Linked DNA regions of Homo sapiens: region 2 is linked to region 1. Evidence: fine-mapped expression QTL. A gene starts in region 1. The other region holds a variant in brackets. All regions are shown on one strand. Distances are between the middles of the regions. Region 1 holds the start of SLC35F4 (solute carrier family 35 member F4). Region 2 overlaps SLC35F4 (solute carrier family 35 member F4).

What was found.
Region 2: its variant is fine-mapped to the expression of SLC35F4 in thyroid (GTEx, PIP above 0.99).

Annotation. Positions count from the first base shown.
Region 1 is chr14:57,860,365-57,873,257 of GRCh38, forward strand. SLC35F4 (solute carrier family 35 member F4) reads right to left here and starts at 5,728. Exons shown (of 8, transcript NM_001306087.2): 1 at 5,359-5,728. The coding sequence starts at 5,461.
Region 2 is chr14:57,827,489-57,840,381 of GRCh38, forward strand. All of the region lies in intron 1 of SLC35F4 (solute carrier family 35 member F4), which reads right to left. It also overlaps the pseudogene RN7SKP99. Among named protein-coding and RNA genes, the nearest start is that of SLC35F4, 32 kb to the right of the region's middle. The variant C/T (reference allele first, on the strand shown) is at 6,623.

The DNA.
Region 1 (12,893 bases):
GGGTGAAGAGAGGCGAAGTAAATGCACTCCTTTACTGATACCTTTCCAGGGAAGGTGGGACTGTTTGGAAAGCTGTCAAAGCTGACCTACTGCATGGCTGTTCTAAAACAGTGATTTCAACTCTCTTTTTCACAGACAAGAAAATCCATGTCCACCAAGAGGTGTCCCAGGTCTCAGAGCCAGTTGCTGGCAGGTTTAAGGATATAATTAATTTCCAAACCACTAGGGTTTAATTCAACCATACATCAACACACTGTTTCCCTATACAAACACACAAAAAAGAATACTCACCCCAAAAATATCAATAATGGAATACAATAAAACATGAATGAATTTATCCTTTCATTTGACTTATGGAAATGAATTAAATTTCTTATAGCATACAAACCACCACCTCCTACCTTTCCAGCTAACTTCCACTAGTCTTTGATTCTACTGAGACCTCTAATTCATGGACCCTACCATCTGTTCCCTGTCCCTAATTATCTAGATTTCCTCTTCTCTGCTTACCAGGTTTAATTTCCATGATCAATCATTTTATTAATACAACTCTTTTGTATACAACTCCGTTGTCCCTATTTTTTAATACCCATTGGATAATCTGTAACTCTGGTTATATCCTTATCTCTACTTGTTCTATGCCTTTACTGTGTTAATGAATGAGCCAACCTACTGGCTGGTCTTACTTTAAATTTGTGACCAAAAACTTTAAACGGACCCTTAAGGCTGCCAGACAACCTGAGCGCACTTCCCCAGTCCATTCACTCTCCCTATTTGTTTTAACTATTCATACCTTCTCTATCCTCCAGCCTCTACCATGTCCTCCACCATCCTCACTCTCATTTGGTGATCTCTCTTTCTACTTGGAGAAGACTGCAGCAACCAGAAGAGAACCTCAACAGACTCCCACCATCTCAGTTATACACTTTCCCAAACGGGCCCCACACACCTTACCCTATATCCATGTTCCTATCTAAGGCAATGTCCCTTCTCTTGTGTACTAGTTTCCATACACTATCTCTCCAACTTCATTAATTTTTCTTTCTCTATTGAATCATTCTCATTTGCATGCAGACTTGCTCTTATTTCTCCAATCTTTAAAGAAAGAAAAACTTTCTTGAGCCTGCTTCCTCCATTTCTTCTGCTCCCCTTTGCACAAAAATCCTTGCAGAGTCATCTATACTCACAGTTTCCAATTCTTCCCTCTAATTCTCTCTTATACACATTCTAATCCATTTTATCTATCCTTATGTGCTCTTGTCAACATTCTTGTCAAGATCACCCATGACCTTTAATTGTCAAATTCAATCGGTCTTCTTTTTACTTGACCTTTCAATAGCATTGGACTCAGCTAAACTCTTCCCCTTCAAACTCTTTATTTACTGGCTTCCAGGGTAACACATGTTCCTGGTTTTCCTCCTATCTCCCTGGATGCTCCTTCTTGATCTCCTTTGATGGTTTTCTTCTTCTCCTGAACCTCTTAATGTCAGAATGTCTCAAAATTCAATTCTTCTGCCTCTTCTCTTCTCTATATGCATTCATTCCTTGGAGGTCTCATCCAGTCTTAGGCCTTAAATACCACCCAAGTACTGGCAAATCCTTAATTTATATCTCCAATCAGACATCTACTCTGAACTCTAAGCTTACTCTACATCTCCAATTACATTTAGTATCTCTAAAACGTTATCCTTATCCCCTGACAATCCACCCCCCACCCCTTTCCAAAGTTTCTCTACCTTGAAACCTTCCACACTTCAGCTGATGGCAACTCAAACTTAGTCAAACCAGAAAAGATGCAGTCATTTTTTACTCCTATCTTTCTTACAGATACCATATCCAATCTATCAGGGTACCCTATTGGCTCTAATTTCAAATATATGCAGACTCTGACCACCTTTCTCTTCTTCTAGTGCTACAACTCTGGTTCAAGCCACCATCATGTCTCACCTACGTTATCACAATAACATACTAATTAGGTGTTTTCACCCTGTCCCAGTACAGCAGTGAGACTGATCTTTGTGTAAGATAAGTCACATCACTCTTCTCCCAAAACTCTTCAAATGCTCATTTCATTCAGAATACAAGCCAAAGGATTGACAATGACCTCTAAGGCCCTCCTTTATCTGCACTCCTGGATCCTCAGTGACCTCATCTCCAACCACTTTCCCAATTGTTCACTCCACTTCAGCCATACAGGCCTCCCTGCTGTTTCTCCAGCATGCTAGTTGTACTCTACCTCAGATCTTTGCGCTAGCTATTCCCACTGCCCAGAATGTGTTCTTCTGGATGTCCATATGGCTAACTCCCTCATATCCTTCAGGTCTTTGCTGAATTGTTACTTCCTCAGTGAGGACTTCCCTGATGAGCCTATTTAAAATTGTGATAATTTCTACCCCCAGAATATTTTATCCTTTTTATCCTGTTGTAATTTTTCAAAAGGCACTTATCACCTTGAAACATACTAAATAATTTATGTACTTGTTTATTTCTTTATTGTCTTGTTTGCTCCCACTAGAACTTAAGTTCTTAAAAGGAAAATACTTTTGTCTGTTTTGCTCATTGGTGTACTCCTGACACATAGGAGGTGCTCAATTAACACTTGTTGAATGAATGAATCTATTCCCTACCTAAGTAACCACACTATGCATTAATCATCTTTTTTAAAAAAAATGTTTAAATAAATATAGAAACAGTGTCTCACTACATTGGTCAAGTTGGTCTTGAACTCCCGGCCTCAAGCAATCCTCCTGCCTTGGCCTCCCAAAGTGCTAGGATTACAGACATGAGCCACTGCACCCACCTTTAATCATCTTTGTATCCAGATTTCTTATTTATATTTACTCAATAACTGTTCATTAATTGAACAGGATAAATAAAACAAATGCCCTATTGCCCATTAAAGTACCTTCATTTATCTGAATTCTATCATGTTTCTTTTTTTGCATCAGCCTGACTACTAGAATTTTTTCTGAACAAGGTACAAGCAAACAGCAGGATGCATTAACAGAAGGCTTGATCTTCAGTGCATTTTCTTAGAGGTAAGTCCCCGTCTATCTCCAAAAAGGTAAATGGCATAGATATCTAGAGATTGTCCTTCATATGTGATCAGACAGGAAATGAGAAAGTCACCTTGCTTTCACATATTATATATTCATCACTGTAGCCTTTTCTTAAGTATATTTTTCCAGACTTCCCCTAAGCTGTTGCTCATTCCCTGTAACAGCCAAATCAATTGACCATATTGTACTGGTTTGCTTCAGTGTGTTTGTTTACTAGTTGAAGCCTGCATTAGGACAGGATTATTTCATGGTGCTCGGTTCCCTGGCCCTCCTCCAGCTTTCTCCTCTCTCAATCTCTCACTGTGCAAAATAGCAATCTTTCTCTACTTCCGAAAGCATGAGCATCCTGAGATTTATCTGACTATCACTTAATTCTCTCTTCTTGTGAGATTCTCTGCCTTCACTCTTTTAACTCTACGGTCTGAACTTAGGTAGGTAAGTGCCCATCACAAATAACCATGCCAAGTTAATCTTTATCCCTTTTGGCTACCAGTTATAGCCTTGGCCAGTGCTCTTCCCTTTTTTTGTCCTGTTATTGTGTTGCAAATGAAGCATGTGCAGCTATTTGAGCAAGTACAAAAATATAATATGAACATGTTCTTATCTAAAATGTCACTTTTTCAGTATTCTTTTTGGGTTGTTCATTGTTAGCCAAAGTTCCATTGTCATAAAAATTACAATAATAAACCACCCTGAGTCTTGTAATTTCACACACAGCTTCTACATTCTCTAAGCCACTAAAATCCCATGGTTCCTAATTAAAATATTCAAAGGTGAAAGTCAAGTAATTTCCACAAGATATATTAGTTCCTTTACTTATGTTTCCAGGGTTAAAAAAGAAATCCTTTGCCAATAAAAAAGGAGAAGTTTTTGAGTGTATAGTACTTCAAAGGGCATTCCACAGTGTGTTATTTTCTTTCCAGAAAATTCTAACACTATATAATTACTTTTGTATGGAAAATGAATAATTTAAGCCCCTAATGCTAAAAACAGCTAGACAGAAACCATCCAAATCAGATAGGCCTTTCCTGAAACCAGATGAAATATCGAACTAGAAAATATCTGTGTGAGAACAGCCCATGGAACAAAGCTCTTGAATTATTATTCAATAGAGAGGAAGCATGGTAGGGGAGAAAGTTACATGAAAAAATAGTGTTTTCTTGTCTTTGTGCCGGAATTTTTGTGGGTCCCACGCATCACAGAAACTGTAATGTTGATTGCACCCCAAATGTCATAGAAAAATACGTATCAGAAATGCATCTAGGAGCTTCCAAGCTTCTGACAACAATAACGGCAAAAACATCAATTAAGCTTCATCTGTTGCAACAGAAATGCATTGATAAAGAAAAAAGCGAAAGCCCACCTGCATAGAAACTAAACCGCAGCTACTCCTCCAATTCGAAGAAAAATGAGCTGCACTTCAGTCGCCAGTAGAACTAATCCCAGCAAATATAGCTAGTGGGTTTGTGTACTGGGGGAGGGGGACTGCGAGCAGAGCACACCTCATCGCCCTCCCACCAAAACTGGTCCAAAAACGTGAAAGCATCCACGCCGCATGACCTCGCTTAGCTGGAAGAAAGCGGTGACCGCGACGTGCGGCGGGGGCGGGTGGCCCTGTCGCCTCCCCTTCTCAGACCCCCCCCCCCCACGCCCCCAGTCTTTTGCACGGGTCTCTGGCTCCAAGCTCTGGGGCTCGGAGACCTGAGCAGGTTCTTTTCTCTTCCCAGGGTGAAGAACCTCCTAAAGATACTGTAACCGGAGTAACTCCCGCGCTGGCAGCGTCTCAACAGCCCGGAGTGAACGAGCTGACCCCACCAGCGCCGGGACCCACGTCTGGGTCGGCCGCCCCCGCCAGCCCCACCCCCGAGCCTCCCCAGCCTGCGTCCCCAGCGCCCCGCACGCAGTAGGGGCTTTCGGGGCATGTATCCCCTAGGGCTGACTTTCCGCTAAGTGAACAGCCATGTTAGCCTCCTCCGGGCGTAAATCCACCAGGGTGAGCCGGCCAACGGCGGTCAGGAGCGCTCACCAGGTCCCCTCCGCACCTCCCCCCAAGGCTACGACTGTTTCCAAACTCCTGGGCGCACCCAGCCGGGCCCCTTGCCCTCTCACGGTTCAGCACCGAGGACAGCGGACATACTTTTCTCCCCGGGGGGTCCCCGCCGCCAGGAAGGCGGTGTTGACAGCGTCCGCAGGGCTGCAGGTGTCCGTACCGCGCGCCCGCCCGTCCGCATCCCCGCGGCACCCCTGCGCGCCCACCTCCCTTCCCCGCCTCGCGCAGGGCAGCCGCGCGGCGTCTTACTTTTCTGGCTGGAGTAACCTGGATAATAGCCATAGTAGCCGGTGATCCGCAGGATCCGGTCCTCGATAGTGGCCACCCCGTTGGGGGCCGCCTTGACATCCATAGAGAGCGCGGGGCGACGGCCCCGAGTGCGGCGGGGCGGAGAGCGCAGCGCGGGGCCCGGGAGCTGGTGCAGGTGCCGGAGCCGCTGGTGCTGATCTTGCAGCTCCTGCTCCCGCGCCCGGGCTCTGACTCCACCGCCCGGCGCAGCACCGGCTCCGCATCACAGCGGCGGCGGCGGCGGCGGCGGCGGAGCGGCCCCCACTCGGGCCGGCCTCTCCGTCAGCCTGGCAGCTCTCCCGCGCGCCACCCGGAGCACTGCTGCCCGAATAGCGCCCCCTCACCTCCGACGCCCACCGTGGCCGGGGGCGGGTGTGGGCGCCCCACCTGGTCGCCAGCTTTCATCATTAACCCTTGCGCGATCCTTCCCGAAAACTAGACACCCCAACCCCACCTGATGAAAGGGATGTTTGGTCAGTGGGGCGCGAGAGGAGAAGGCGACGGTGGCCAGGGGCTCAGAGAAGGGTGTTGGGAGTGGGAGAAACCCAAGAGGGACTCATAGCTGTTAATGCGAGGCATTAACTCTGTCGCTCGGGGAGAAGACACTTCTGGGGCGCCCCGGGACTCGGTCCACGCTTGGCGTCTACACCACCTCTGGTCTGCTGATATGCAAGCATTCCCCCGCGTTAGTCAGTCCTTGCAACTTGTCTAGAAGACTGGGAATCTTTTTTTATGAAATGACAAGAAAATTAGTTCCCGGCAGGTGGTATATGGAGTGATTATCCAGGTTTTGCAGACGCAAAGACTGTAAGTGTTCAAGCGCTCAAGTCTGACTGTCCATACGGACCCTCCATCCTGCCACTGAAAAATGTCAAAGGCTTAGAAGATTCAGCTGCACACAGCACGTTTATTTTTCCAATTTCAAATGCTCTGAGGAGAAATGATTTTCTCCTTTATTGCCAAAAATATCAGGAGGGAAGTCCTTCAAACTGTAAATATCTGGACGAGTGAAAGTCTTAGCTACAGTCTAGAGCCTTTCCATTAGAGCAGAACATCCTTGAAGCTGTGTGTTCAGAGCGAACACCCTCCCCTCAGGTGTGGGACTCTTCTGCTTTAGCCAGAGACCCAATGGGTTAGGGTCAGTGAGCAGTGGAGACGATTCCTCTGTTCATAGTCTGCAGACACAGCTTCCTGCAAATAATAATAATAATAATAATAATAATAATAATAATAATAATAATTTTCAAAGTTTCATCTCAGAAATGAAAAGGTGGAGGTGGAGGGTTAGTGGAGGGGAGGGTCAGCTCATCAGCTTAGAGGCAATTTAGGTCCACCTTCCGTGCAGAGCTGGCTTAAGACATCCCTGCCAGGTTTCATATTACTAAAGCTTAGGGAGAAGAAAAAAAGAGAAACAAAAGTCGACTTCAATGCCCCTCTCAGAAACCTCCAGAGAACCTATCACACCATCCTGCCTCCAAGCATTTTCCACATTGTGTGTGGGCCCTTAAGAAGGAAGAAATATGCAAATTTTTTTTCTAAAAGGTAAATTAGGTTTAAGCATATGAAAACGCAATATTAAATTTTACAATATGTTTTGGGTTTTCATCCAAACACAAAGCTTAGCACGGGATCTTGAGAGTGGAGTCAATCTGAGATTATTGTGGCTGGAAGGAGAGTTCATAAAGAAACCAATTTCCTCCTACACCTGTTTTCTGGGCTAGGAAAGATGGAAGGGTGGAAAGAGCTAAAAGGTCAAAAGGAACTAAAAGGAAAAACCAACACTAGTGCAGTGATGGGGAGCTAGCCATATAAAGCAAAAATGAAAGCGTTATGCCTTTACACCCCCCCCCACGTGAAATAATATTCAGCACACTTTTGTTAGTTTTATTATTTCTGTGGCAAAATTATATCAAATGCATGTATTGCACATGGTAAAATGTGTTCATCACATATAATTTTAAATGTCACTTTTGTTTGAAGTTTCTATGAAAGATAAATTTTCCAATATTACATATATTATATATTTTGATAATAGCCATCATAATCCATAGCACATTAATATATATATCAGTAAGAGAGAAATTAGGAAACAATTCAAGCAAAAACCTTCTGATGTAACAGGAATATATATGTATACACATACATACACACACACATATGCAGACTTAAAAACAAGTGGTTTTTCCCATTGCTTATAACTTATCTTGCCATAATTAATGTACTTAAATTATAAATAACAATTACCGTGTAAGTCATTACCTTCTTCCTGCTTTTGCTTTATTTTCATAAATCTCCATAGAAGTAGATAAAAATGTATTTAACTGGATCTGATCATTCATATAAACAGTAAATTCAGCATAAATTTAAATACTACAATGTAAACATACCCGCAAGAGTCTATGTTTTCTTTTGAAAAAGTAAAAATTTTCAGACTGACCTGGAAATAAATTTTAAAATAGCAAAGCACTTACAAATCTCTCTATAATCATCTGTAATAGGATGACCAAAATAGTAAATGCCAGCAAGTGCTATAATCTAGGCCACACTTTTAATGGAAGGAACTGAAATCCTACAATTATAAATTGATAAACAGTCAAAGGTAAATTTCTGCTAGTCATGAACACTCTTGGCATATATGATAAAAGATGTTTTAATCTTTCAATAGTCATTTTAGACGTTATTAACAATTTACAGAAATTATTTTGAAGAAAGGATAATTTTTTTTTTTTTTTGAGACAAAGTCTCACTCTGTCACCCAGGCTGGAGTGCAATGGTGCAATCTCGGCTCACTGCAACCTCCGCCTCCCGGGTTCAAGTGATTCTCATGCCTCAGCCTCCGGAGTAATTAGGACTACAGGCACCCGACACCACGCCCAGCTAATTTTTTTGTATTTTTAGTAGAGATGGGGTTTCACCATGTTGGCCAGACTGGTCTCGAACTCCTGACCTCAGGTGATTCACCAAAGTGCTGGGACTACAGGCATGAGCCACCGTGCCCGGCGGAAGGAAGGATAACTTTTAAAGCATTTTTATGTTTGCATGTTTAGTCTACCAGTTTTCACAAACCCAAATATTCAAATTTACAAACTATGAGTTGCAATGTATGCCTCAAATCTATTCTGAAAGAATAAAGAAAAGACACAACTTAATAAATGAAGATTGAAGGTCATTATTTGATTCATAAAATAGTTTATCATGATAGCCCTTCACATAGCCAGTTTCTCTAGTAGTTGTAAATTATAATTCGATTTGTTATAAAACAAAATTTGTTTTTTGTGCGCTCTTCAGGAATTTTTTAATGCATCAAGCAGAGGGTATCTATCTGTGATCCCAGATGAGTTTTGATATATGAGCCATATGGATTTTGATCATCTGATCAAATCAGATTAGCTATTTATACTAATTGAGTATACAATTAGGTATTCACGTGTTGTGGTTTTTTTTTTTTTTAAAAAAAGCCAAATCATTTGTAAAGTAGTTCATGGGATGATCACTTACAGTCCTTGTGTCTGATGCTAGAATAGCTATACCAAGTAATAACATTAAAACTAAATATGATCACTGGGTATAAATTTTATTCAAAGATAAGCAGTCTGAAAATACCATATCAGTCTATACACTTTGGAAGGGTTAGTAAAATAAAATCCATGGAATCTAGTCTTCTGTACTTTAATTAGCAGAAAGGGATCAGAAAATCTGGGCTTTAGTCGTCTTTTTATGGCAGGAATAAGACACCTAATCTTTCTATTCACCTATTTGAAGTTACCACTGAAAGATGCTGAAAGAAGGGGAAATGATCTTTTTCCCCTCTGGGAAATTAGTATATTTTACCTATCTCCTTGGGCTAAAAGTAACTTGGCTGCTTGGAAAGCCAAGAATCTTTAAGCTTTTATAGTCAAGGGCCAATGTTACTTTGTACAAACACCAGCACTGTTTACAAAGAGTTGACCCCAAGAAATTTAAACAGTGTTAGTGTTTAAAAGCATCTGGCTTCTAGCCAACCAGGTGATAAGAAATGGCACCTGAGAAAGAAAAAGCATGCTCTTAATATTCCATTTTCAGGGAAGTTGTTTTGAGTATTTAACTGCCAAGTCATCAGCCACCCCATTTGGAATGCTGACACAGCCTTTCTGTTTCAATAGTAGGCAATGGCAGACATTGCTAATTTACCTTTCAGCTCAAAGGGGCTGGGTGTCTGTATGAGAAGACAGGGCAGAGTCCACTCTTCATTGGCCTCAGGTGCCAGGCTGCATCCCAGGACTAATTTTGAGGCTCAACTCTTTGGAAAGGCACTGAACCTCTTTGGAGAAAGTCTTAAGTAATTTCAACATATATATTCAAATTTTAGAATTTGTCTATGATCTGTGTGTGTGTGTGTGTGTGTGTGTGTGTGTGTCTGTGTCTCTCCCTGTGTCTCCCTCTCTCTCGGTCTGTTTTTCTGTCTTTGTCTCTCTGAGTCTGTGTGTGTCTGTCTATCTCTCTGTATGTTTCTCTCTGTCTCTGTCTTTCTCTTTCTCCTTCTCCCTACAGCATTATACTGTACTCGGCAGTACAGCACAGTGGTTTAAAGCACGGACTTTGGAGCAGACTGCCAGGAGTCATTTCTGACCTCATCATTTTCTAGCTGCGTGACCTTGGGTAAATCTTTTGAAATCTCTATGACTCAATTTTCTCATCTCTAAAATAGAAATATACACCTATATAGTGGAACTATCATGAGAAATAAATGAGTTTATACCCATAAAGATCTTATAACTGTGACTGGCATATAGTAAGCATCATATATATTAGCTATCAGTACTATTTTTATGCAGACATAGAACGCTTTGAGCTTCAGTTTCCTCCTCTGTAAAATGGGCTCATACTCTCTATTTCATAGTATTGCTGTGATGGTTAAGTGAGATCACATATTAAAATATTTTACGAAGGCCTGGCACATCGTGGGTACACAATAAATATTAATTTTCTTCTCCTAGCCCTGCCCCTGCTCTGTCCATTGTTTTTTACTGAAGTTGATTTACACTTTCACTCTCCATTCACACTCTTGGAGCTTCACTGTGGCAATTGCTTTTACAGGTCTCCTTTAATTCTTTCAACCATGGGTAATGATCACGTGAGGCAGACCTTGTGTGCCAATGGAATAAGTGGCTTCAGAAGTTCAGTGCTTTGCAGAAAGAGAAGCTGCTCAAGATCAGCAGCTCTTCTTGTCCTTTAAGGAAGCATGAGCACAGGAAGAGTTTACTTCATACTAGGAAAGGGACCGAGGCTGTTAATCCCCAGGTGTGGGAGGCACTCAGGTCCTGCTTGGTGAAGTGGAGCAGCCTCAGAGGGATCATAGTGTGATGCCCCATGGGAGGCAGGCCCATTAGCCATTAGGCTTCCCAGCTTCAGCAGATATTCTGGTGCCTCCCAGCTTGTCCAGAAGCAGCAGAGTCCCCAGCCCCAGAGGGATCACATGTGGGCTTGACTATTGCACATTTCAGCAGTGCCCAGTGGACTGAAGATCAGACCTCCTTGATGCTGAGCTAAGCCAAAGATCTCCCCTGACTGCATAACTCTGCAGCAGGGGAGCCCCAACAAGACTGAGATTGCATTTCCCACTATTTTTATGAGGAATAGGGACTCAGAGTAAGATTTACAGTAATTTAAAGCAAATAAAGATTTTTTTAAACCCTTTTGAACAGCTGTGTTGGTGGTTATACATTCAAACCTGCTACATATTCATTTTACAAATAAGCCTTTCTGTAATTTAAACGTCTAAAAATGCCATGCACACCACAGCCTCAAACCTGCTGCATATTACTTGTCACACAAGCTTTCTGTAACATTAACTGCTAAAAATGCCAACCCTGCTGTGGTAGTCATTGTTACTGTTTGCCAAATAGTCATGGTTCTCCCCCATTTTAGGCATACCACAGGACTGCACTTCCTGCCCCCTTGTGGTTGTAGTGGGGCTGTGTGACTAATTCTGGTTGTGAACAAAAAAGCAATTATCATCTCAGTCAGAGCTAATACTAGACACTCAAGGGTTTTCTCTTTTTCCCTCTGGCCCCATGACCATCAGCATTCAGGATGACTCTGATACATACAAAGTAAAGTTACTAAAAACTGTAATTGAAGAGTTTTAATTCCTTCCATAAATACTGCATTTAATTTTCAAGTTCTATTCTCTTCGTCCTTTGTTTTCCAAAGACATACTATGTATGTCTAAGATCACTAGTTCTTGAAGCAATTCATCAACAAATCATAGAGAAGACAAAACAAATTGTTGGAAAGAAACATTATGAGTGGCACAGAGAACCAGAGAGAACACAAAATTTGAAACTCGTTAGAATGCATCCATAAAACACAGACTCCAGAATACACGTTCAATACATCCACATCTTGAATGAGTACTATTGCCAAAAGCAATTTCAGAAATGACTTTGTCTTTAATTTCAAGAACTATTAATCTGCAGGAAATATATTCACAAGGTTTTATTTCATCATTATTTTCAGTATCTGTGATTCCCATCAGTAGAACTTGCTTTTTAAATGCCCTGAAATAATACAGAGGTACCAAAGTGGACATTCATCCTTTTTTTTTTTTAGTACCCAGCTGATGTGAGAGGAGGCTCCTGACAGAAAGAGCATACATTTCAAGAGAGAAGCTAAAAAGATCGCACCAAATAACTTTTATGCTCCAATTCATTTTCTTTTGTCTCACCTTTGCAGTGACCACCCTGTATGGATTGTCATTGATTCACCTAGACACAGCCTGACAGCACCTCACCTCATGCCAATGCTGGGCACCTCTAACCTCCTGCACCAGCATTTCCTTGTTGGTGCTGAGACATGAAAATGCATTTGCTTGGCTCAAGCACGTACAACCTGAAAGTGCAGGGGACAGATGTAACACTGGGCAAACCTGTGACAATGGGAAACAGGAGCTAGGGTATAAATTCTCCATTCCATTCTGAATGGACTTCCCTGAGAAGCTGTCACTTTTGCAGCCTCTTGCCCACAAGATCGTGCAACTAGTCAGACTGCTCAGTCTTCATGCTAAACTATGGTCAGCTCAGTCACATGCCCTCATATGTATACACCAGTACATAAAACCCTGCCTCTGCCTCAGGCTCTCTTTTCTGAAGAGCTCAGGTTAAGATGCCAATTTTCCCAGTCTCCTCACTTGGTCACTGGCACATACCCCTGCTCCACCAATCACAGCATCCATTCCAAATTTTGAATGGGAAGCCAAGTGGAGAAATCCTGGGCCATGTCTGCAATGGATATCAGCAGCTGTAACAGTAGTTGCAGCCACATTTTCCATTGTCCGTTTCAGTGATACGGGCTGTATAAACCTCAAGTTAAATATTTCCATTGTGGAAATTATGGGTTTGATTCTCCCCTGTAATCCATAAATGTATAACAGAACTTCGTATGTCCCCCTGGCTACCCCATAGCATTATCCCACGAAGGGTCAATTGCATTATAGTCTATCTTGCTGGCACCTCTCC
Region 2 (12,893 bases), 33 kb before region 1:
CATGTATCCTGGAACTTAAAATAATATTAAATTATTTTTTTAAAAAAAGGACTAATTTTTCTCTGAAGGAATTTATTTTCTATTCTCATTAAATATTTCTCCAATACCTATAAAGATGGAAGGCAAGAGGACATAGAATTTTGCAGCAAGTACTGACCCGTTGTCCACTGACAACCACTGAGAGAAAATTAAGAGTTATATATGAAATCTCCACAGTGAGGCACAATAGAAGCCAATACTTTGGTGATTTTTTTGTTAACAACCTTGTTTAATATACAATTATAAGGCAATACTTCCCTTCACTCCTTATTTTTCAAAAAAAAAAAAAACAGTAAATAAGTAACTTGTTAAACAAGAACTTGGACATGCTATTTTTCTAAATGCATGAACAATTTCCATAAAGCATGAACCTCAGCTGAAGACATTACCAAGATTTCAGCTAATAACCTGCATCTACATTTGTTTTGGTCATGAAGGAGCCCTAGGATGAATCCCAAATTCTAATTGTCTCTTCTTCTAAGTTTCTTCTCATATAATTTCCATTAAAGGGACCTGCAGATGTAATTACTGAGTAAGGCAAAAATTAATATAGCTGCTCACCAACAAGCATGCACTTTGCAATAAGCTCCAGTTGAGATCACAGGAACCCATGAGATCAGTGGTCCTCAACTTCAGATGCACGTTTGAATCTTGGGAGAGCTTTATTTAAACAAAAAAACCACACCCATGCCCCAGATCCAATGCCAGAGATCTCCATTTGATTGGTCTGGGAAAGCGATGAGGATCTTTTTTAAAGCTCCACATGATGAAAATGTTCTCTCAGGACTGAAACCACCACATCAGAAAAAGCTATGAGCATAGTCAGCATTGCAAGGAATTCTAACACTAACAGAAAGAGAGTATTATAAATAATAATAATTGGTAATTCAATAGACACACTGGGCCAAATTCTCATGTGATAGAAAAATTCAGGGTGGGAATTTAAAAATTCAGGCAATGGGTATATTTTAATTTTAAAAAGATGAAAAGATCACTTTTCTATGGTAGTAGAATTTCTTCACACACATCTCTCCAGAATCCTTTCAAATTAATTTGCTTTTTAAATTTAATGTAAACAGCCTGTGCTCTCTGCCAAATTCTTAAATATGTGCAAGAAGTCCATTGTGTCACAGAATGTCACCAACACCACTCCTGGTCTCAGTGGCCAGCTCATTCCACACGTGGCTGGTGATCCAGGATAGGAGTTGGACTGTTCTTTCAGAAAACAGCAAACTCTGGGCAACCCGAGGTCTGCCATGGGGTGAAGGATTCAGCAATTCTGCCTTAGAAATAAAGGTGAGCAGAGCTCCACAAGGGTATTTTGAAAATGGAATAATATTATGCAACAACAATAATAATTTCTCCATAGCCCAAGCTCACCCACGGGACACTTTTTAGCCATGTTACACAACTCATTGCTTTTAAACAGCCATGCTCACTATGCCTCCTTTTAAATGCCCTTGGAGTTAGATTTCTGGGCATTCACTATGCACATGCTTATTAGGTTCTGCAATAGGTACAAAATATAATATTTGGGCCTGCCTTTAATTGCAGTTTTATTGAATCAGGGATGTTCACACAAAGGTTCTGACATCCAAGCACCAAATGAGCTACACAGACAAATGATGTTAGAGGCATTCAGAACAGGACCACCAGGGGCAGAAGTCATTAAATGAAAATTAAACCAGATCTTGAAATGTAGTTAGGATTTCAGTAGAAGAAGATAACCAGGCAGCTGGGATCACTGTGAGCAGAAGCGCTCTGGCAGGAGAGAGAATGCCTATAGGTCTGGGTCGTGGGGGAAGGGAACTATGCAGAGATGTAGTTCAAAGCTGGAGCAGCTCCCTGTGGAAGTGACTCTCAAACAGGTGCCCTGCTGTCATACTTTATTAATGAGAAAAACATAGTTTGCTACCACTGAGGAAAGCTATTGTTCCCTCAGTGACAGAATACAAGCTGAAAGAGTTGTACAAAGCAGGTCTAAAACGCTGTGACCAAGAGGGCAGGCCAAGTCTGCAGGAAAGATGGTGTCACTCTGGAACCTGAAAGGATGCTTCCTCTGAAGTACACAGGAGAGCACAGCCCTGGCACCAGGCTCAACCTGTGTCACAATGCCGAAGAAAGGCCAAGAAGAATGAAGGTGCCAAGCTGTGGCTCCTTTCCTGGGTGCTGTGAGACCAATCGCTACTGCAACAGGGGTTGTGGGTAGTGATCACTGGCTGGTTGTGTGTGATTCTGAGTCTTTTAATCCCTTCAGGCATGCAGATAAAAATTCCAATATTTCAAAGAAGGCCGTGAATATAAAAAAGAAAAAATTTGAGAATCTCCAGATAGGGGAGTTGAATTGTATTTTATAAGCAATGGGAAATCACTCATGGTTTTTTAACAGGAGAGTGACTTTATGGAAAAAACACAGCAGGAAGAATAATCTTGCAGTTAAATGCAAATTGGAATGAAAAGAGAAGAGAGTGTATAAGCAAGAATAAAACTTATTTCCATTCCTCTACAGTTTTAATTTTGAAGAGTAGAAAAAAGTATATAATTTTTAACTTTACAAAAATATTCCAATACATTGTCTGCTACCTACAAAAAAAAAGTAATGGAAGTAAAATCTAGAAATACTACTCCAAAAGAAAGTGTTTATGTAGCATTATTTCCTCTTCACATATGTTGCCTTTTTTTCAGCTTTGTAACATTTCAACTGTGTGGTTTTGGTCAAATTGATCAATCTCTGTAATCCTTGGTTTCGTGATCTGTAAAACGGAGAAAATGTGGTGTAATGCCACCTCATTGAGTCACTGTGAGGATTAAATGAAATAATGTATGTTAACTACCACTTCCTTTATAATATCCGAGGAGATTTTTATTTGGATCTCCCTAGCTTCGGACAAGAGAAATACTTCTTACAGTCTAAGAGTAACTTAGAATATGCCCCAAATATGAAGTTACAACCCAATTTTATGTTATGCTATGGAAATCCTAAAAGATATTTCTTAGAAAACCTGAAGTCTAGCATGAGAAAGATTGAAAATTTAAAGAGCAAAGTGATTGGAAACTCACTTATGAAGCCTATAACTTAAAATCTCATAATTAAATGAGCCAATATGGTTCTGGATGGCTCTGCTCAGATCTCAGTTTCAGACCACCTACCTTCAATGGGAAAATGGTATATGCCTGATATATTCTGTAAAATACCAACTTTATCTATGAGGAGGGAAGCTGTCACTGGTTACAAAAACAGACCATGGCTGGAGGTGTTGCAAGACAAAGAATCACACACTCTTTTTACACTTTCTCTGTGACCCCAAAATCAAAAACCCAGAGCCAATTTATCAGAAATTCACCCTAACTGAACACAGTGCCCATTTCTGCACAGACTACCTGTGGAGCAAGTTCAACAGCACTTGTATAGAGAACACCAGCACTTATTTGAAGCACTGGGGGTGCAAAAATGAAATAGAATGCATCCCTGCTCTTGAATGCTGGTGGGACATGGTATGCATGCTCTGTCAGAATTTATCATCTTCTCTCTCAACTCTGATTTCTTCACTGTGTTCCCATTTCTGTTTCTACACCATTACTCTGCACCAATCACTCAGGCCAGCAGAGCAGGGAGGTGATTTTCGATTCCTCCCATTCCTTTCCTGACTTCTTACAGATGCCAAGTTCTACCATTCTCCTTCCACAGTATCTCTAATATCTTTCTCTCCCTGCCATGTGAGAATATAGTGAGAAGGCAGCCTCTGCAAGCCGGAAAGAGGGCCCTCACTAGACACAGAGTTTGTTGGCACCTTGATCTTAGACTTCCCAGCCTCCAGAACTGTGAGAAATAAATGTCAATGTTTAAGCCACAGAATCTTTGGTATTTTGTGATAGCAGCCCAAGCTGACCAAGACAGTGATAGACGCAGGCATACAGCATAGCCTCCCAGGACAGAGGAGGGTGGAGAAGGGCCAAGCGTGAATCTGGAGGGACAAACTAAAGCCACCCAGTACAGACAGCTCTTAAGAGATAAGCAGAATTTGCAGTACAGCAGCAATCTATGTTTCACAAACTGCCACAGTAAATAATCTATCCTGTGTTATTGTTTTCTGTGGAATTCTCAAGCAGCAAGAGGGAATATTACCATGTAATCATTTCCCTTTATTTCAGTAATTTAAAGAGTGAAAACCTTGGAGCTTTTTTCTCCTTGAGAGACCAGAGCATATTTGTGGGTCCAATAACACCTTTGCAAAACAGAAGAAACATTAACTTTATCTTTATATTATCCAGGCAGAAGAATGCATTCTAATAAGCAATGAAGTGAAAAACCCTACTGTGATTGAATTTATTTTTCCATAGAAATGCAGGAAATAGTCATGAATGTTTTACTAAAATGCTTCCTAATCATAAGTGTATATCCGTGTCTTCACAAGTCATGTTTTTGAGCACTGCAACTCTCCAAGCCAGCAAAGAACTCTGTAAAATTGTCTTTAATCCCTCACAAATGACTCAGGAGTCCCACTGAGGCTTTATCACGTATTATTTAATAAATTCATGAATCTACAAACCAGAAGATGTGGAAAAACCATAGCAACCAGGAGCAAGATTGGAGAAGTTGGCCAGGGTTGAAGGACGCTAGGAGGCACATACAGCCTTCCTGAGCTCTGAAGCCCCTCCCTCCCGGCCCACCCCACATCACTTGACGTTGCCTTAGCCACACCTCTGCCTTCCGCAGACTCAGTACAGGAACTTGCAGCAGAATGGGCTTCAAGAGTTTAACTGCTCTAGTCACCTGCCTTCAGATAAATTATTAACACTTTATACATGAGGAAAATAAGACCCTAAGACTTTAAGTAGCTTGTCCAAAGTCACAGATTAATACATAGAAGAAGAATATGTAGGATGAACAAGCCTAGAATCTCATGTATGACATGAGGACTATAGTTAAGAAAATTATATTGTATTTTTGTTAATAAATAAATTTTAGCTTTTCTTGTTACAAAAAGAAGTAACTATGTGAGATGATAGACATGTTAATTTGCTTTATGACAGGACTATTTTACTATCTATATGTATCCCATAACATTGTGTTGTAAACCTCAAATATATACAATACAATTTATTAGAAACAATAAACAGAGAATGATAACTAAAGTCCTGATCTTCCTAGCACAATACTTTTACCAACTCCAATTTTTGCATGTTCTGGCTCTACAAATGAGATGAGGGAAAAGAGAACACAAATTCCCTATACATTTCTGATGCAGTAAACATAGCAATTGAAAATAGAATGCTGGAACTGTAATTCATGTGTAAAATTACACTCACTGATAAAAAATTTTTTCACATTACAGTAAATTTGCCCTTGAGAAAACGTGGTGAAATATTTCAGGTATTATTTTCTGTCAGCCTAGCCAACACGACCCAGGGTACTTTTATTCTTTCCAAGTCCTCATAATTGCTAGAGAATTTGTTCATTTCTTTAATGATAAATATTGTAGGAACACGAGAGCAGGTGTCCCTGAAATAACATTAATTAGGCAAACTAAAATCACATATGCATAAAGAACAAGAACAAAAGTTCTCTATTTAGAGCTAGTAAAAGCATGACTGGTATAAAGCTTACTGTCACGTTGTTGTCATTGTCACCATCATCATCCTTGTTATCATCTAATCGCAAGGCAATCTCACTAAAGACAGACAGAATTCTCATATTCTTTCACGGTCCCTAATGAGATTACCTTAACCCTATCCCTAGCTCTGCACATCCTGTGACATTAAATGATGCTTGTAAAGGACCATCTCTGCTAGATAATTTTGGTATTTTCATTCTTTTCTGAAAATCAGTACAGATTACCCAGGCTTTGCACCCCCAGAGGATCTGAGTCAGTGTTTTGGGATAGAGCCCAGCCATCGGTATGTTGTAAAAGCTCCCCAGGTGATTCTGATGAATCAAAACACAGAAGACTGGGCTCTGTCCCAGAATGACTGACTCAGAATCTCTGGGGCTCAAGGCCTGGGAGACATTCACTTCAAAAAACCTCCCCTGGGTGACTCAGATGCATATCAGAGAGTGAGAAATGCTCTCCTCAATTGACAGGCATAAATCTATCCACAACATCAGGAGGATACACCGGAGTTACAACCAATATCAAATGAATATTTGAATACAGACTCCAGCCATGGCCATAGCTAATCTCCCGTTGGCTTTCCAATTTGGATAAATGCTAAATTTGCTCATTAGGGTAGCTGTTGGCATATTTAAATATACCATGGAGACTGCAACTTTAGTGCATCTCTTGCATTTTCATATATTCACAAATCACCTTTATGAAGACTAGCTTCACAGAAAATAATTTTTTAAATGCACGTTAACAAGAACAGAAACCAAGCAACAGCCTCAATTTGAGAAAATGTTTAATTTTACCATAGGAATCTTTTTGTTCCCTCTCTTCACATGTTAAAATAAATCTGAGGCTATTTACAAAACCTTGTGCTGAATTAAGTGAAACACAAATGAAACAACCCTCATTATTAAAAGTCTATAAATTAAAATAATAACAAAGGCTGACCCCAAACTCCACCTAAGATGAGAGCAACC[C/T]GACATTTCAAGAAGAAACACTTTCCCAGAGAACAAGTCATGAAGCATGACATCTTAAAACTCCAGAGTACAAAATGTCAACACCAAAAGGACTGAGTTGGTAAAAATTGAGAAAGAGTGGGTACTGAGAAGTAAAATCTGTTTCAAACAAAACTAACTCCTGCAAGATTTTGCACTTCACTGAATAACTACAGCACATTGGTGTGTTCATTTTTTTCTTTTTTCTCTACAGATTCATTCCTTCTACTTTGTACAAGCCCTAACAGTAAGCTATAAAAATGTCATAAATTATTACAGTGCAAATAGTGTAAAATCTTATGCTCACAAGGAGGTCCAAAGTGGTAATCATGCATTCCTTAGTTTGAAATACAAAGAAAAACATGCTTTTTGCTTACAAAGTAAAATGATGACAATTGCAAAACATCTCAGTAGAACTGGTACCTAATTTCTGTTGCCAGTGAAGGGAGGGGAGATATTAGGACAGGTGTTAGAAAGGACAATGGTATAACTAAACCGTCATTCACTTAATGGAAGTCCCAGTATGATGAAAGAACAATGTTATTTTTAGATCAAATCCTTCCTATCCAGCATGTCAGTATAAAAATTGCTTCTCAGAGAACCAAAATAGGCCGGGCACAGTGGCTCATGCCTGTAATCCTAACACTTTAGGAGGCCGAGGTAGGCGGATCACCTGAGGTCAGGAGTTCGAGACCAGCATGGCCAGCATGGCCAGCATGGCGAAACCCCATCTCTACTAAAACTACAAAAATTAACTAGGTATGGTGGTGCATGCCTGTAATCTCAGCTACTCAGGAGGCTGAGGCAGGAGAATTGCTTGAACCCAGAAGGCAGAGATTGCAGTGGGCCGAGATCGCACCACTGCACTCCAGCCTGGGTAACAGAGGGAGACTCTGTCTCAAAAACAAAACAAAACAAAACAAAAATAACCAAACTAGAATGGTTGAAGTATTAACAGACCAATACAGAAGTTGCTGTTTGCCACAGAAACATGAAAATAGAACCAGTGTTATTCACTGTGCCCATGGGGCAACCCGTGCTTGAAGAAAAGGGCCCCTCCCATCTCCTTCAGATCCTGTAATCATATTGTTCCTCCTCACCAGACACCAACTCATTTGGAAGGATACAGAGTCCAAGTAGGTCCTATAGTATGTCTCCAGTGAGTCCTTGCAGTTCACAAGCTGTGGTGAAGCCACATTAATACAGCTACTTCTCAACAATTGGAAGTCAGATAAAACAGTGGATGGGAAATATAATCAGAAGTCAGTCATAATGGAAAAATTTGCATAAATCAACAGTTTCTAACTCTCCCAACCCCCAAGACTTTCTCAACACTCCTAAAAAGCAACAAATGACTGATTTGCTTTTCACATCCTCTCCCTTCTTTTGCTCTTTCTCATTGTCAGCAGAACAATACGCAAAATGTGACTGACAAGAAAGAGAAAGAGGAGCAAAAGGACTCTATAACATTTCTGTCATGTAATTACTGAGGACTCAAGAGTTGGCTGGAGAGGAATGACCCCTGCCCAGTTTCTGCTGCTAGTAATAATTTGGAGTCCTGGAGGACAGGCCAAACTCAACATGCCTAAAATTTAATTTAGCACTGATCACCCACGAACACCTCTCTCCTTCCAGCCTCGCTAGTCTGTCAAAGTTGCCATGTTAAAACCTAAGTGTTACCCTTGGCTCCTTCTTATTCTGGCATCAAGCCATGTCTAGTCTCCAAATGATTTCAGCTCTTTCAGAGTTCTCAGAATGTTCCTTTCTTTTAATTTCCATTGTTTGGGCTGAGAGTTAAAGAATGCAGGAATTTTCTAAACAACACATTTGGGAAACATTCCAAGAAACAGAACCATCTGCATCAAGATGCAGGTTGTGAGAGGATGGCACACTAGGAACTACCGGTGACCTGGTATTATTGCAATCCAAAGTGGCAAGAAAGGAGGTGAGAAAGGCCTGTAGCAGGAAGGACCTTTGATTTCTCAATGAGAAGCTTGAATGTTTTCCAGCAGCCAGTGTTTTGCAGACTTCAGTAGTTTAACTAATGACTTACCTACATACCACCCATATTATTCTTATTTGCTTAATAGTTTTTCTCTGAACTCACTTATTGTTCCATATTAATCAACTTATTTAACATTGAAATTTTATTTTTTATTTTATTGATTGATTGATTGATTGATTTGAGATGGAGTCTCGCTGTCACCAGGCTGGAGTGCAGTGGCGCGATCTCAGCTCACTGCAACCTCCGACTCCCTGGTTCAAGTGATTCTCCTGCCTCAGCCTCCCGAGTAGCTGGGACTACAGGCATGCGCCATCACATCCAGCTAATTTTTGTATTTTTAGTAGAAACGGGGTTTCACCATGTTGACCAAGAGGGTCTCGATCTCCTAAGCTCGTGATCCGCCTGCCTCAGCCTCCCAAAGTGCTGGGATTACAGGTGTGAGCCACTGCGCCGGCCTGAAATTTTATTTTAACTCAAACATTTCCTTATGAAAACTTTGAAATATACACAATAGAGACAATAGTATAATTAATCTACATGTACTCAGCACAGCAAATATCAGCCCATGACCAATCTTGTTTCCTTTGTACTCCCCTAAGCACCACCGCTACCTCCACCTCCATCAGCACACACACAAGCACACCCTTCCTGAATTACTTTAAGCAGATCACAGACATTATATCTTTCCATCTATATATAATTTGTATCTGTAAAGGATAATGACTATAACGCCATCATCACACCTAAAAAAATTAATAACAATTCCTAAATATCATCTTACATCCAGAACATTAAAATTTTACATCACTGTCATATATTAAAAACTGAAATAATTTGCCACAAATTTTTAAAAGAAAATGTTATTAACATTATGGCATGATATGCTTGTAATTGGAACACTTAGCTTGAAGGCTCTTCTCCTTACTAAAAACTGAGATTAGAAAATGTTACACTGGTCTTCCACTTATACATCCTCATTGTCAGAAGGAGAAGGATTGAAAGGGAACTTAAAATGAAATAAATTTTTCACTGTGTAATTTAAAATTATTTAACACCATGTCTGAGTACCACCTAAATCTTGCATTTAACCAGGAATATCTGTCCCACACTTCAAGAGACACTGTTACAGGGAATCATCAAAGAATTTAGGGCTTGATGGAATTCCTAATTGCGAAGAATTTTTCTAGCAGCGAAAAGAGCAGAAGGGAGGTATGATGGAGAAACGGACAACCTGTATGTCCCACAACTTACTGAGCCACTTTCAAATTTCTTGAAAGTTTGTTTGGCTCAAATACTGTAGTTCTCCTAGTGCTCCAATAGGGGAGCATACAGACTCGCATGCCTTTGACCAAGGGTAGACCTCCTCCAATTGGAAAGACCACTTGCTTTGACCAATCTCACAGCTTCTGGGATAGGGACCACACGTGCGTATAGGAGAGGAAGGGGACTTAACCTAGCCAACCCGGCTGAATAGAACCTTGCTATCAATGAGGTGACTGATGTCACATCCTGATGACCGTCACATATCATACCATCATTTCTTGAACCATCACTGTCACCCAAGATACCCCCCACTTCTCCAAAGCCAATCTTCCCTAGAAAGGGGCTTTTGTGCCAGGTTCTAGAGCGTCCTTCCTCATAAGCACTCTTTTCTGTGAATAAATTACCAATTCTTCAAGAAATGCCAAAATAAGACATTTTTCAGAATACTGCTCACCTCCCCTTCCCCAATACACATACATTCAAATATCTTCCATGGCTCCCCTTTCATACAGGGAAAGCACCACATTTTTGACATGCTTTTCCGTTTTATGGTTACCATCTTTTTGCCATATCTTGTATCTACAACTTGAATATGAGTCCCGTGCTTTTACACTGATTCAGTGGTTAATCAGTTCTTCCTATAGGTAAAGTACTATGCTTAATGCCGGTGATACTAAGATGACCAAGACAAAATTAATGTCCTTAGCAACACAGAGGCCAGTGGAGAAATAAATGAATAAACAAAGAGATACAAAGCAATGTTTCATAATAAAGGTTCTATGAGCTCAGGTGGAAAAAGAACCCACTCTTCCTGGGCAGGTTTTGGAAAAGCGAGGAGAACAGAGGTGAGGCTTCAAGAGCAAATGGGAGATCCCCAAGAAGGCAAACAGGAAAGAAGGAGAATATATCCTACTTCTCAAAACCTAAGAATTCCCAAATCATAGCTTGTTCCCTAAACATTCTATGTGCTCAAACTATCTTCTAGTCAGGGGCCAGCAATACGTATGTCTGAGTTTCAACAAAAACTTTGTGATCAAAAACCTGTGAAGGAAAAAGGAGTCAAAAAAATATATACAGTCAAATCATTTTTTCCCAAATCAACACATCTTTACTGAGCTTTGCTACATGAAATATAATTTAGTACTGTCTCTGCCTTTGAGGTCCAATGTTTGTTTAAATACAGTCTAGCTGAGGAGCTATATATATAAAAGCAAGGAAAGCTCAACAACAATAAGAGACATGACAGTTCAGTCTCAAAATAGGAAAAAAGATACAAGTAGCACGTGATCAAGTGCCAAATAGCCCATGATCAAGTACCAACATAAATGCAACTATAAGAACTTTTTTTTAAGAATGATCACTTTACATTGTGGGCCAGGGAGATTATAGGTGTATATAGAGAGGTAAAGAATATTTGTAAAGCAAAAGGCAGGAAAATACAGGATTATTTCAAGGATTAGTAAATCAGTCCATATGGCTGGAATAGAGAATTCACATGAGAATGGCATGAATAAAAAATAGGTAGGGACCATATTTGAGGATGCCATATGTACATACACAAAAAAACAGTAACCACTTGTTGAGCTCATATTGCCATACCGGTACCCATATGTCATATAAATTAATTCTCAGATAAGGACACAGGGGTCTTAAGGTTAAGTCATTTAATGTCAGTCTAGGGATACCTACATGCAAAAGACAGATGTGGCCCCTGACCTCTGGGGCTTAAAATCTAGTATCCACAGAGTAGGAAAGTGAATTAGCTGAATTCAAACTCTGGATTCCAAAGCCCAGGTTCATTATTCACCAATATTTCTCTGTTCCTGTTCAGCACCAAGATAGGTCAAATATTAGAAAACTCCACTCCTTCTTCACTTCTTATCCTTCGGTTGCTCTTTATGTAATATTGATGGCAGTGATTCTTGACCCGGCCTGCATCAGAATCACCTGTGGAGCTTTTTAAAAATGTGCACACATATACACACTATGGAATACTATGCAGCTGTAAAAAGGAATGAGATCATGACCTTTGCAGAGACATAGATGGAGCTGGAAGCTGTTATCCTCAGCAAACTAACACAGGAACACAAAACCAAACACTGAATGTTCTCGTTTGTAAGTAGGAGCTGTATGATGAGAACATAAGGACACATGAGGGGCAGCGGGGAGTGGGGAGGAAAAACACACACTGGGGCCTTTTCAGGGAGGCGGGGAGAGAGGGAGAGCATCAGAAAGAATAGCTAATGGGGGCTAGGCTTAATACCTAGGTGATGGGTGGATCGGTGCAGCAAACCACCATGGCACATGTTTACCTATGTAACAAACCTGCACACCCTGCCCATGTAACCCTGAACTTTAAAAAAAAAGTTGCAGAAAAAAATGTACATGCTCAGGACACAGCTCCAGGGACCTGAATTGGAGCCCAGGCATCTGTATTTTTTAAATATTCCACAGGAGATCCTGATGCAGAGCCAGAGTTAAGAACTTTATCAACACTCTACAGCATGTCCAAAACACGCCCCAGACTTCTTACCTAAGACCTAAACAAAACATGCACACTTCATTCTAGTCTTCTACAAGCAATCCAGATGAGTGATCTAATAATGACACTAATAATAATAACATTCATACATTTTATTGAGTGCCTACTCTGTCCCCAGGCACCGTGCTTAATGTTTTTTACACATATTTTCTGTTTTAATTCTCGCAAAATCCAAGGAGGAGAGAACTTTTAATATTCATATTTCCAAAGTCATAAAGCTAGATACAAGAGCTGGAATTCAAACTCAAGAGTACATTGATTCAAAATAAATGCTTTTCACAGCCACTTCACTACACTGCCATCCAAAACAAAGGATAACCATTAATTCTCTGAATATTTGAGTGCCACCTAATGCCAGGCATTGTGCCCTCAGTCACAAATAGCATAAACTAATACTCACAGACTTTAAAGTAATGGCATATTGACTTGAGCTCCAATAGATT